3 linked regions of the Homo sapiens genome follow. The protein of the gene in region 2 purifies or fractionates together with the protein of the main gene of each other region. This does not show direct contact. Each region holds a gene or a part of one and is shown on either strand. Other genes may lie near its edges. The genes, in order: ALG9, GLT6D1 and PRXL2A.

The links.
Region 1: the proteins of GLT6D1 (region 2) and ALG9 purify together in Homo sapiens (affinity purification with mass spectrometry; one large-scale study listed by BioGRID and IntAct). This does not show direct contact.
Region 3: the proteins of GLT6D1 (region 2) and PRXL2A purify together in Homo sapiens (affinity purification with mass spectrometry; one large-scale study listed by BioGRID and IntAct). This does not show direct contact.

Annotation. Positions count from the first base shown.
Region 1 is NC_000011.10:111,833,497-111,837,149, reverse strand, and holds part of ALG9 (alpha-1,2-mannosyltransferase ALG9), read left to right. Parts: intron 1-855; coding exon 856-985; intron 986-3,653. UniProt on the Homo sapiens protein: Mannosyltransferase that operates in the biosynthetic pathway of dolichol-linked oligosaccharides, the glycan precursors employed in protein asparagine (N)-glycosylation.
Region 2 is NC_000009.12:135,623,148-135,626,497, reverse strand, and holds the end of GLT6D1 (putative glycosyltransferase 6 domain-containing protein 1), read left to right. Parts: intron 1-291; coding exon 292-429; intron 430-1,073; exon of another isoform or gene 1,074-1,113; coding exon of another isoform or gene 1,114-1,166; intron 1,167-1,292; coding exon of another isoform or gene 1,293-1,400; intron 1,401-1,827; coding exon 1,828-2,401; 3' UTR 2,402-2,850; downstream 2,851-3,350.
Region 3 is NC_000010.11:80,418,466-80,422,118, reverse strand, and holds part of PRXL2A (peroxiredoxin-like 2A isoform 1 precursor), read right to left. Parts: intron 2,120-3,653; exon of another isoform or gene 1,654-2,119; 5' UTR 1,652-1,653; coding exon 1,474-1,651; intron 1-1,473. UniProt on the Homo sapiens protein: Involved in redox regulation of the cell. Acts as an antioxidant. Inhibits TNFSF11-induced NFKB1 and JUN activation and osteoclast differentiation. May affect bone resorption and help to maintain bone mass.

The sequences.
Region 1 (3,653 bases), on a different chromosome or scaffold from region 2:
TGATCTGATGTTAATCCTCTTCTAAAAGTGGTCTAGAAACTCCAGCTAGAAGAGAGAAGACATTCTTGACCCAACAGTAGTGAAAGTTCTCCACCATTATGTGGACACTGGGGAAGGCTGTGGTTAAAATGTCTATACCAGTTTCCTTTATGCTTTCTGTGGTTCTGAGAGCATAGGCCCTAAAGTTCTTTGTAGTTTGCTTCATTTGGCCAGAGAAGAGTCCTGTGTAGGTTAAAGGGAAATCTGGTTAAGATGAGTCATGTTGCTCCATTTGAGAAATGGCTTCAGTAGCTTGGCTTTACTGGGTAGTAGTTTCTTATGCTTCATAAAGACCCTGTGTCAGTCATTAATGATTAAATTAAAACTTGTTTTTTAAGTGTTGACTTTAGCCTTTGCCTTTTACGTTTGAAATAGTTTTATAGATAAAGATATGTTTGAGGGTTACTCCGGAACAAAGTATTTCTCCCATAGTGTGTTCTCAGTGCCATATATTACATTTCATTCTTTTTCTCTACACCTGATAATTTGCTTTATTTGATAAGTCTCTCTGCCCACATAGTAATTGACAATAAGCATTGGCACTTCTCTGGTTTTTTGATGATATGACCATTTGGTTGTGAATTTCACTGCTAACAGTTGGTGAAATGGGTCAAGAGACATCTAATTATAAATTTCTCAATGATTTTGGACTGACTTGTGACCTCTGCCTCTGTGCTCCCTGGTTGAGGTTTTAGCAGAAATATTTTTTCTTCAAGAGAAATGTTTTTCACATGATTTTCCTGGCTTGTTTGTTTCAAGTACATTTAGCAATATTATCCCCCTGTGTTTTTCTTATTCTCCTTGTGTTTCTGACAGTTGGCAGCTTCAGTTCATTCCATCAGAGTTCAGAGGTCAGTTACCAAAACCTTTTGCAGAAGGACCTCTGGCCACCCGGATTGTTCCTACTGACATGAATGACCAGAATCTAGAAGAGCCATCCAGATATGTAAGGGCTACATTCTCTTCTTGCTTCTCTGAAAAGAATTCTATGCCTAAAAGTCTGTTGGTGTGTATATTAGAGCATTGATAAAATGAGAATTTCTTAGAAAGCAATTTTTTTAAGGCCGGGTGCTGTGGCTCACACCTGTAATCCCAGCACTTTGGGAGACGGGCGGGATAATTGCTTGAATTCAGAAGTTCGAGACCAGCCTGGGCAACATAGCAAGATCACATTTCTACAAAAAATTAAAAAATAAGCCAGGTGTGGTGGCTTATGCCTGTAATCCCAGCCTTTCAGAAGGCTGAGGCAGGAGGATCACTTGAGCCTCGGAGTTCAAGGCTGCAGTAGGCCATGATTCCGCTACTGCACTCCAGCCTGGGCAACAGAGTGAGACCCTGTCTCAGAAAAAAACCGGATATTTTTTAGGATGAGGGGTATAACAGCTTTTGTTGAAAAACAGTAAACAGTATCACTTTTATTTTCAAATTAACCTCTTTATTTTCTATGTAAAATGTATAATTTAATTTTGAAGGTTTTGGGTAGGCTGAAAGTTTTCTTACGGTAGAAGTTTGAACCATTATTCTGAAACTCATATCATTCCTTGGCCTATTAAAATCCTTAATGAGGAACTTTCAAGTTATCAGGTGGACCTTTGACCTAGCTATTAGTATATTCCGGTTTTAACAAATGAACAGTAAAGACTGTTTCCATACTGAATGCCAGGGAGCAGCCTCTGTCAGGGCCATGATCTTCTCCCTACTTGTCTTTACACATTCTGAGATCCCATGCGAATTTTACTTCAGTTCCTTTGAAAGATGACACTTTTGACATTTGATACCTGTGAAATCTTTGATAATGAAAAAGGTAAGAAGTAATAAAGATAATGCTCCTTTTGGGTCACAAAGACAGTGTAAGATCGTTGTCTAGAATTATTAGAAAGCACATTTTTTGATAACCTGATAACCTGTCCGTTAAAGAAATATGTAACAGTTTAAATGTCAGCTATATTTAATTTACATTTTCTTATGTCATATGCTTAAAATGTAAAATAGCAAGACTTCCAATTCTCTTCTGAAGCAAACCTGCAGCCACATCTGGTCTTTTGTCTCCCAGATTGGGGCTGGTTAGAGTTCCATGGAGACCCTCAGGGTTTATGAGTGAGATTCTTATTGTATGAGCTGTAACTATAAGCTATGAAAATGGACACTTAAAGACACAGCCTTGAGCTGTTCCCTTGTAAGACAGGCGTTTCTGCCACATGGATTGTATTAGAGCTTTATTCTTTTAATTTAAGGCTCTGATTCCTGTTACAATGGAAATACCCTTGGGCAGGGTAGACTGTTACAGGTCATTTTAATTTTATCTGCAGATATGAGTCTCCTGAGTGCAGGGCATCATTCTAGAGAAGCTGGACAGTCAAAGGGTGGGAAAATACACTGTCATAGGGGGACAGTATGAATTCAGAGTGATGTTATCGGAGCTTTGCTTTAGGAAGAGGTAGTAAAAATGGAGTAGTAAAAAAAAGAGCGTGGACTTTGGAGTTGAGTAGGCCTGCATTCAAACCTCAGCTCTGTTGCTAAACTTGATAACCTTGGGCAAATTAGTTAGCTTCTCTGTTTAATTTCAGTTTCTGTCTGTAAAATGGCACCTACTTTGGAATTATGATATTTGATATTATATCTCTCTGTAGCAAAAATGCAATGTTCTTATGCTTGCACAAGTGTTCTTAATCTGATAATGGTATATTAGACAGATTCCAGGTAAAGAAACCCAATCTCTCCCCTTCCTTCTTTTTATTGTTTCCCATCCTTGTAATTTTATTCCAGTGTCTCCAGACTCATCATTGCGTTTTCCACCCCAGTGACTTCGCTTATATTGGTGACTATGCCTGAACTACCCTTGTGTCTCTTCTCACACTATCAAAATTATCTTCCTCTTTGAAGTGAACTATTTAAGTCCATATTGAGCAGACCTTCCTTTAAGTGTCTTCAGTATTTATCTGTGCAGTTCATTTAGCCATTTAATTTTCTTGGTCTTAGTTAAATATTTCTGATATCATATCTTTCCACATCAAATATGTGAATGCCATGAAGAGAATGACTGCACTTTGTTTCTTTTGTGTTCACCATAGTGTCTAGGACGGTGTCATGTACCCAGTAGTTCACTTTTACATGCTTTCTCAGTGGATAATGAATATTCATCGTCATTGTGGTAATGATGTTGAGAGAAAGCTGGCTAGAAAATCTACAGTGGCCTTTTGCACATTTCTTAGGCTTTTATCACTGGTTGTCTTAGTTAGATCATATTTCCATATTCTCTGCTGTCAGACAGTGTTAAATTTGATTAAATGACTCTATATGAGCTTTACCCGAAAGGTGATGATTTTTCAGGATGCCAGTAGGAGTCACCAAAATGCTGGCTGATAAAAGCAGGGAAAAACAAGTGATTTATGTCTGCTGGGTAGCAGCTGTGTCCAGCCCTTTGAATGCGAGGATTTTTTTGCTTATCTGTGGTGGCAGAATCATGAAAATTAGGCATGGACCTTTAGCTCTGGGTGGCAGGTTTTAGCCAGCCTTTGGCTTCAATGCTAAGTGCTCCAGCCTGTCCCGTTTCTATTGTGCATGGAAACGAGGAAAGTTGTATGACTTTTTTTATTTCACTATTTTCTTTACCT
Region 2 (3,350 bases):
GGAACGCACAAACCCAGGAGCCAGGTAGGCTGGATGTGGCATCCCCACGTGTTAACTGCAGTGTCAGGCAACTTACTCAACCGTGTGTGCCTCTGCTTCCCCACGTGGAGATCAGGGGTGGTGGCACTCATTGCATAGGGCGTTGCAAGGATGAATCCAGTGGGATGATGCACTCAAACACGGAGCTGGGCGCGCACTAGGTGCTCTCTAAGCATTAGGCATTACTGCTCGGCACCTGCTGCCGGCGCCTCAGTAAAGCACTCCCTGTTTAACTTGGTTCTTGTTCCACAGAAAACGCCCTGATGTTATAACGAAAACAGACTGGCTCGCTCCTGTCCTATGGGAAGGGACTTTCGACAGGCGGGTCCTGGAAAAACATTACAGAAGGCGGAATATCACTGTGGGCCTGGCCGTCTTTGCTACTGGCAGGTAGGTGCCACTCACCTTTGCCCTTTTTTATTTTGGGAAAATGTGGATCAGCATTCACGAGCCTTTAACCTCCAAAGAGCCAACCATAATTAAGCATAATTAGTGATAACAATAGCCACGATTTCTGGGGAGAAACAAACTTACCTGTCCAAACCCAAATAAGGGACTCAAAGACCTGGAGAACAGTGAAAGTGAGACTTTTAGTGACAGTCTTGCAAGATCGGATGTCTGATGGGCAGGCACACCCAGCACAGTTTCAACTGCAATTTATCCCCTAGTGCACAGGTCCCTCCCTCAGTTCCTCATAGGCTGAGTACTTGGGGTCACAATCTTCCCAGACGTCGCCTATTTGTTGTTGGGCAGGGGCTTTAGGTGTTTTCTTTAGGGTGGTCTTGCTGCATTTTGTTGCAGCCCACAATGCATTGCAATCCTAGTGAGCTCAGGGGCTCTTCAAGTATCTGACTTATGACCTAAGTAGCTGAGCAGGCTGATAAGAACAGACAAAGTGAGCTATTTTGCAGACTAGTAAAGTTTTATCTTAGACTAAACTTTTTTGGTTTGGGTGAGGGCAACTAAGGCAGGAGGCCGACAAGCAGGCATTGGCTATTTAAGTGGGGACCTAGTATATCCTGTTTCTTTTGTAGTTTGCTGACCTGAGCCGATTTAAGGCCCTTTGTCTTGGAGATGGTCTACTATAGACACGATTTCCTTCAATTTCTGGCTGTCCTGTACAAAAGGTGTGCTGGGTTTCTCTGTCGATGGCCGAGTCCTTAACACCAGTGGGAACCTTTTGACTCATACCCATTTAGCTCCTGCTCCCTTTCTTCACAACAGCCATTCCAAAACATGGTGGCTTTTCTCAGGCCCTCCAGGTCAGGACATTCCTTCCCACTCACCAACTCAGCTGAAGCTGTGGGCCCGACTCCTCCACGCTTGTACATCCCGAGTTCCTTAGCATCAGACACACCCATGTGAGTGCATTCAGCCGCCTCTTCTCCTGATCATGTTTAGAAAAGTAAGTGTCGGCCGGGCACAGTGGCTTATGCCTGTAATCCCAGCACTTTAGGACGCCGAGGTGGGTGGGATCACCTGAGGTCAGGAGTTCGAGACCAGCCTGGCCAACATGGTGAAATACCATCTCTACTGAAAATACAAAAAAAAAAAAAAAAAAATTACCTGGGCGTGGTGGCAGGTGCCTGTAGTCCCAGCTACTTGGGAGGCTGAGGCAGGAGAATTGCTTGGACCCAGGAGGTGGAGGTTGCAGTGAGCCGAGATCACGCCACTGCACTCCAGCCTGGGCATCAGAGGGAGACTCCATCTCAAAAAAAAAAAAAAAAAAAAAAAGAAAGAAAAGAAAAAAGAGAAAAGTAAGTTTCTTCCCCACTGTGTGTTTCCTAGGTTTGCAGAGGAGTACCTGAGGCCGTTCCTACACTCCGCAAATAAGCACTTCATGACAGGCTACCGAGTGATCTTCTACATCATGGTGGACGCCTTCTTCAAGCTGCCTGACATAGAGCCCAGTCCTCTTCGAACGTTCAAAGCATTTAAAGTGGGCACCGAGAGGTGGTGGCTCGATGGCCCCCTGGTGCATGTGAAGAGCCTGGGTGAACACATCGCCAGTCACATCCAGGACGAGGTGGACTTCCTCTTCAGCATGGCTGCCAACCAGGTCTTCCAGAATGAGTTCGGGGTGGAGACCCTGGGCCCGTTGGTGGCCCAGCTCCACGCCTGGTGGTATTTCAGAAACACCAAGAACTTCCCTTATGAGAGGAGGCCGACCTCAGCAGCTTGCATCCCGTTTGGACAGGGAGATTTCTATTATGGCAACTTGATGGTTGGTGGCACACCCCATAATATTTTAGACTTCATCAAAGAATATCTGAACGGAGTTATTCATGACATCAAAAATGGACTCAATAGCACTTATGAAAAGCACCTTAACAAATATTTTTACCTCAATAAACCCACCTAGCTGTTATCACCAGCATACAGCTGGGATCTTGCATTTTCTCCTCCTCCACAGATCCAATACGTCAAGGTCGCACATGATTCCCAGAGGAAATTATGAATTACGCCATGAGGTTTATGACGAATAAATGAATCACGGCAATTTCTTATAAATGAGGGAAGTCTTAAGACCTTCCATTTTTTAGAGACATACAAATTTACATCCTTCCCAAATAAATGTTTCTTCTTGCCATTTTGAGCCATCTTATTTGGCTAATGTAGGATAAAGAATAAAAGGATAATTACTTAATGTTAATACACAGTAATGTTATTATCTATGTATTGTAGACAATGTGAAAATACATTTGACATAGAATGAATATTTTTAATGGAGAAAGACTCTAGTTGAGAAAAAACATTCATAAAATGGAAAAGTAGTTCACGCAAAGGAAAAAATAAATGCCAGGCCACTCACTGAGTAGTCACTGTGTTTTTCCACACTGGGATATGTGTGGCTTGTGGTCGACCTCGCCTATTGTCTCAGTCTGTTCGGTGTGTGATTCGACACAGGTGAGCTAGAGGAATCCAGCCAAAGCCACGTCTTACTATTACGGTTTCAAAGTGAGATATTCAGTTCCTTTTGTTAAAAAGCTATAGATATTGGCCGGTTGTGGTAGCTCATGCCTGTAATCCCAGCACTTTGGGAGGCCGAGGCAGGCGGATCACCTGAGGTCAGGAGTTCGAGACCAGCCAGCCTTGCTGACATGGTGAAACCCCATCTCTACTAAAAATACAAAAAATTAGCTGGGTGTGGTGACGGATGCCTGTAATCCCAGCTACTCAGGAGGCTGAGACAGGAGAATCGCTTGAACCTGGGAGGCGGAGGTTGTAGTGAGCCGAGATTGAGCCATTGCACTCCAGCCTGGGTGGCAAGAGTGAAACTCCATCTCAAAAAAAAAAAATCTGTAGGTATT
Region 3 (3,653 bases), on a different chromosome or scaffold from region 2:
CCATTTTGTCTATTGCTGATGTCATCAGATATTGTATAATAATCCTTCAGAACAGAAACATGGCCCAAACTGAAAAAGTCTCAAATTTTTAACCTAAATATGTTACCTGCAATATTATTAACGAAGGAGAGGATAGAAGATGCCTAGGAATAAAATGCTTTGGGGTAGTACAGTACTGTAGTTCAACAAGCCCAGCTCTAAGGTCCAACTGAATCTGAATCTAGCTGTGTAACTCTGGGCAAGTTATTTTTGCTCTTTGAACCTCAGCTTCCTCATTTGTAAAATGCAAATATCTAGTAGCTCCACTTTGGGCCACAGGGCATATTGAAAGATGAATATAAAAGTGCTCACCACAATGTCTGGTAATATAGAGTTGGTGAGGGCTCAATAAATATGAGCCCTTAATTATTTTAGTATTTCCCAGAGGGATCCATGTTCCCGTAGATGTTATGTGGAAAAAAAAAAAATGGGGTCAGGTGGGTGAGAGGGTGGGGAGAAGAGTCTGTAATCAAATAAGATTGGGAAACCCTGGGTTGAACAAAGCTTAACAGGTCTCTCTCTCTCCTAGTATCTTACTAAGGTGACCTACTATAAACCTGCACAATCTCCTGCCTTCCTTTCGCAAGCTTCCTTACTTACTAAACAGATGACGATGACTTCCACCTGGGGGGCTAACATGGTGACCACGCCATCAATGAGACCTTCACCACTCCAACTCTCTTGCCACACCACTGGCATGACTGAAATCCCACCAAGCTACAGCTCTAACACTGAGAGCACACAGCAAGGAGGCAGAGCTAACACATTTGGGTGTGTGGCTCTAAGCTGTCCACAATGGATTCTAGCAGTCCCCCAGAAGAGGGAGATAGGCAGGTCTGCTCTAACGGGTGACCTTGAAGTGATTCCTCAGACACCACAGCTTCTTCACAGGGAGGGGCTGGCCATGCCTGAATCAGCAGCAATCCAGACACCTCATTCTAATAAGCATATGTCTGTGCTGAGCATCAGGAGCATGGAATTGGATAAAAGGTGTCTCCCATACTTGTTCACTCAGGAACTCCTTTTAGTTTGACGATCCCACAAGCCTGGAATTCCTCAGAATACACTCTGGAAGCACTGGTTTAGTAAAAGATTGTAATTATTACTAAATATTATGGAGCAATTTATCATTATAATTACAGAGACAACAACAGAGAATGAGAAATGCTTTTGATAAGAAAAGCTAAAATGTAAAACAGCACCTAAGCCAAGCACAACTACGTAATATGTACACATGGAAAGGAATATGCCAAAATCAAAATTACTGTGTTAGGGTAACAGAATTATTCCTAGTTTAAAAATTGTTATTAAATTTTTCCTAATGTTGTTATATTATCTTTTCAATTAAAAAAAGGAGAGAGTTTAGAAAGAAAGCAGTAAGCCTGTATCCCAGCTCCTTGGAAAAGTACTGAGACCTGAAGGGTCACCACTTACCCTTCTCCAGTGTTTTCAGGTCTATATCCTCCAGGTACTCCAGGGCCGCTTTCTGGGGCTTGGACAGAAACACGTCTGTGTTGGCAAGCAGCAATGCCAAGGCAGCAGCCCCCAGGGCTCCTGCACCAATGGACCACATCCCCATGGTGAAGAAACTTGGGTCCTGGAGGAAAGACATTTCTGGAGATTGAGAAGAAGGAAGAAGGCGTTACTGCTCCCACAGGGTAGCTGGAATTTCATCTTCCAGGCAAGGCTCTGGCAGGACAGCCAACCAGGAGGTCAGGACAGGGGAAGGGAGCAGCAGTGTCACAGGCGAGACTGGACAAGGGCTGCTAAGCACCTGCTGCCACCAGAACTTGGGGATGCAGCACACACATGGAGGTTCCTGCACCGTGGAGCTCACCAGGGCATCAGGAGTGATGACAGAGAAAGGACAGCCTTCTCAAATGGTTCTCTTGCTGCTCTCTCTTCTCATGCCCCAAGTTGCAGCCCCTAGCTCTGTGGAGCTGTGCCGAGCTATGTCCCCTGTAGGCAGACTACTTCCTCATTCCCCTCCTCATCAATGCCTGATTCTCCCTCACAATCCAGGTGGCTCAGGATCATGTCCCTGGGTAGGGGCAGCTTTCTCTTCTGTGATCAGAGGATACTTAGAACACCAACCGCACTGTTTTGTTCCCCTATCTTCTTTCCTCTTTAGTTTGACGACCCTCCAAAAACAGGGACCATATCCTACTCATCAAGCCCCCAGCCAGTGCCCAGCAGGGCCTCATTCATTATAGGCAGGCAGTAATTTCTCCCAATTGAGAAGAGCTTTATTTCTCCCTTATATAAAAACAAAATATGCTTATAGTAAAAAACAAAACAGAGAATACATGAAACCATAGTCGATAAGAAAGCAAATACTCTCTGAAGCTACCACCTACTGATGGCCACTGTTAAACACTGGTGTTTAGTAATCTGACTTTTTTCTCCTGTGAACAGAACTACACAGATGTCTGCCAAACAAATGCAGGTGTTATATCAGAAAGAGGAGGTCCTGGCAGGGCGCGGTGGCTCATGCCTGTAATCCCAGCACTTTGGGAGGCCGAGGTGGGCGGATCACCTGAGGTCGGGAGTTCGAGACCAGCCTGACTAACATGAAGAAACCTCATCTCTACTAAAAATACAAAATTAGCCGGGCGTGGTGGTGCGTGCCTGTAATCCCAGCTTCTCGGGGGTGCTGAGGCAGGAGAATCGCTTGAACCTGGGAGGCGGAGGTTGCGGTGAGCCGAGATCGTGCCATTGCACTTCAGCCTGGGCAACAAGAGTGAAACTCCGTCTCAAAAAAAAAAAAGAAAAAAAAAAAAAGAAAGAGGAAGTCCTGGCAGGGCACGGTGGGTCATGCCTGTAATCCCAGCACTTTGGGAGGCCGAGGCAGGTGAATCACGAGGTCAAGAGATGGAGACCATCCTGGCCAACACAGTGAAACCCTGTCTCTACTAAAAATACAAAAATTAGCTGGGCATGGTGGCGCATGCCTATAATCCCAGCTATTTGGGAGGCTGAGGGAGGAGAATCGCCTGAACCCGGGAGGCGGAGGTTGCAGTGAGCTGAGATTGTGCCACTGCATTCCAGTCTGGTCATAGAGCAAGACTCAGTCTCAAAAAAAAAGAAAGAAAAGAAAAGAAAGAGGAGGTCCTATGGCATCTGCAGAGGAGGCTGGGCAAAAGACAGCTGCATAAGATAAAGGTCTCTGCAACTGAAATGGAGCTCCAGGCGGGTTCTGTCAGAATTCAGCCTTGTTCCTGGCTTCTTCTGCCAGCTAGGAAGACTTGTGCCTGTGGGTGGGAGCTCCTGGAAGCAGCCCACAAAGTACCCCCACCTCCAGCCTTCCTTCTCCCAACAACCACTTACAATATCTATCTTTCCATTTGGTCCTCACGCCATCCTAAGCTCTGGCATACACTGGTGCCTTCTTCCCTAAGTACCAGCCTGCTTCTGTGTGCTTAGATCACCGGGAATAGGCCTGGGAGTGGGTGTGGTAATTGTGTGGCCCACCTCACCCCAGCCCATCGAACCTCTGACTCAAGTCTCCCTTGCAGGACTTGGCCGGGAGAGGATGTCTCTAAAGGATCAGGAAAGGCCCTGGAAATCCAAATGTCACTGCCAAGGGTGGGGGCTGTGAGGGGTGCACTGCATGA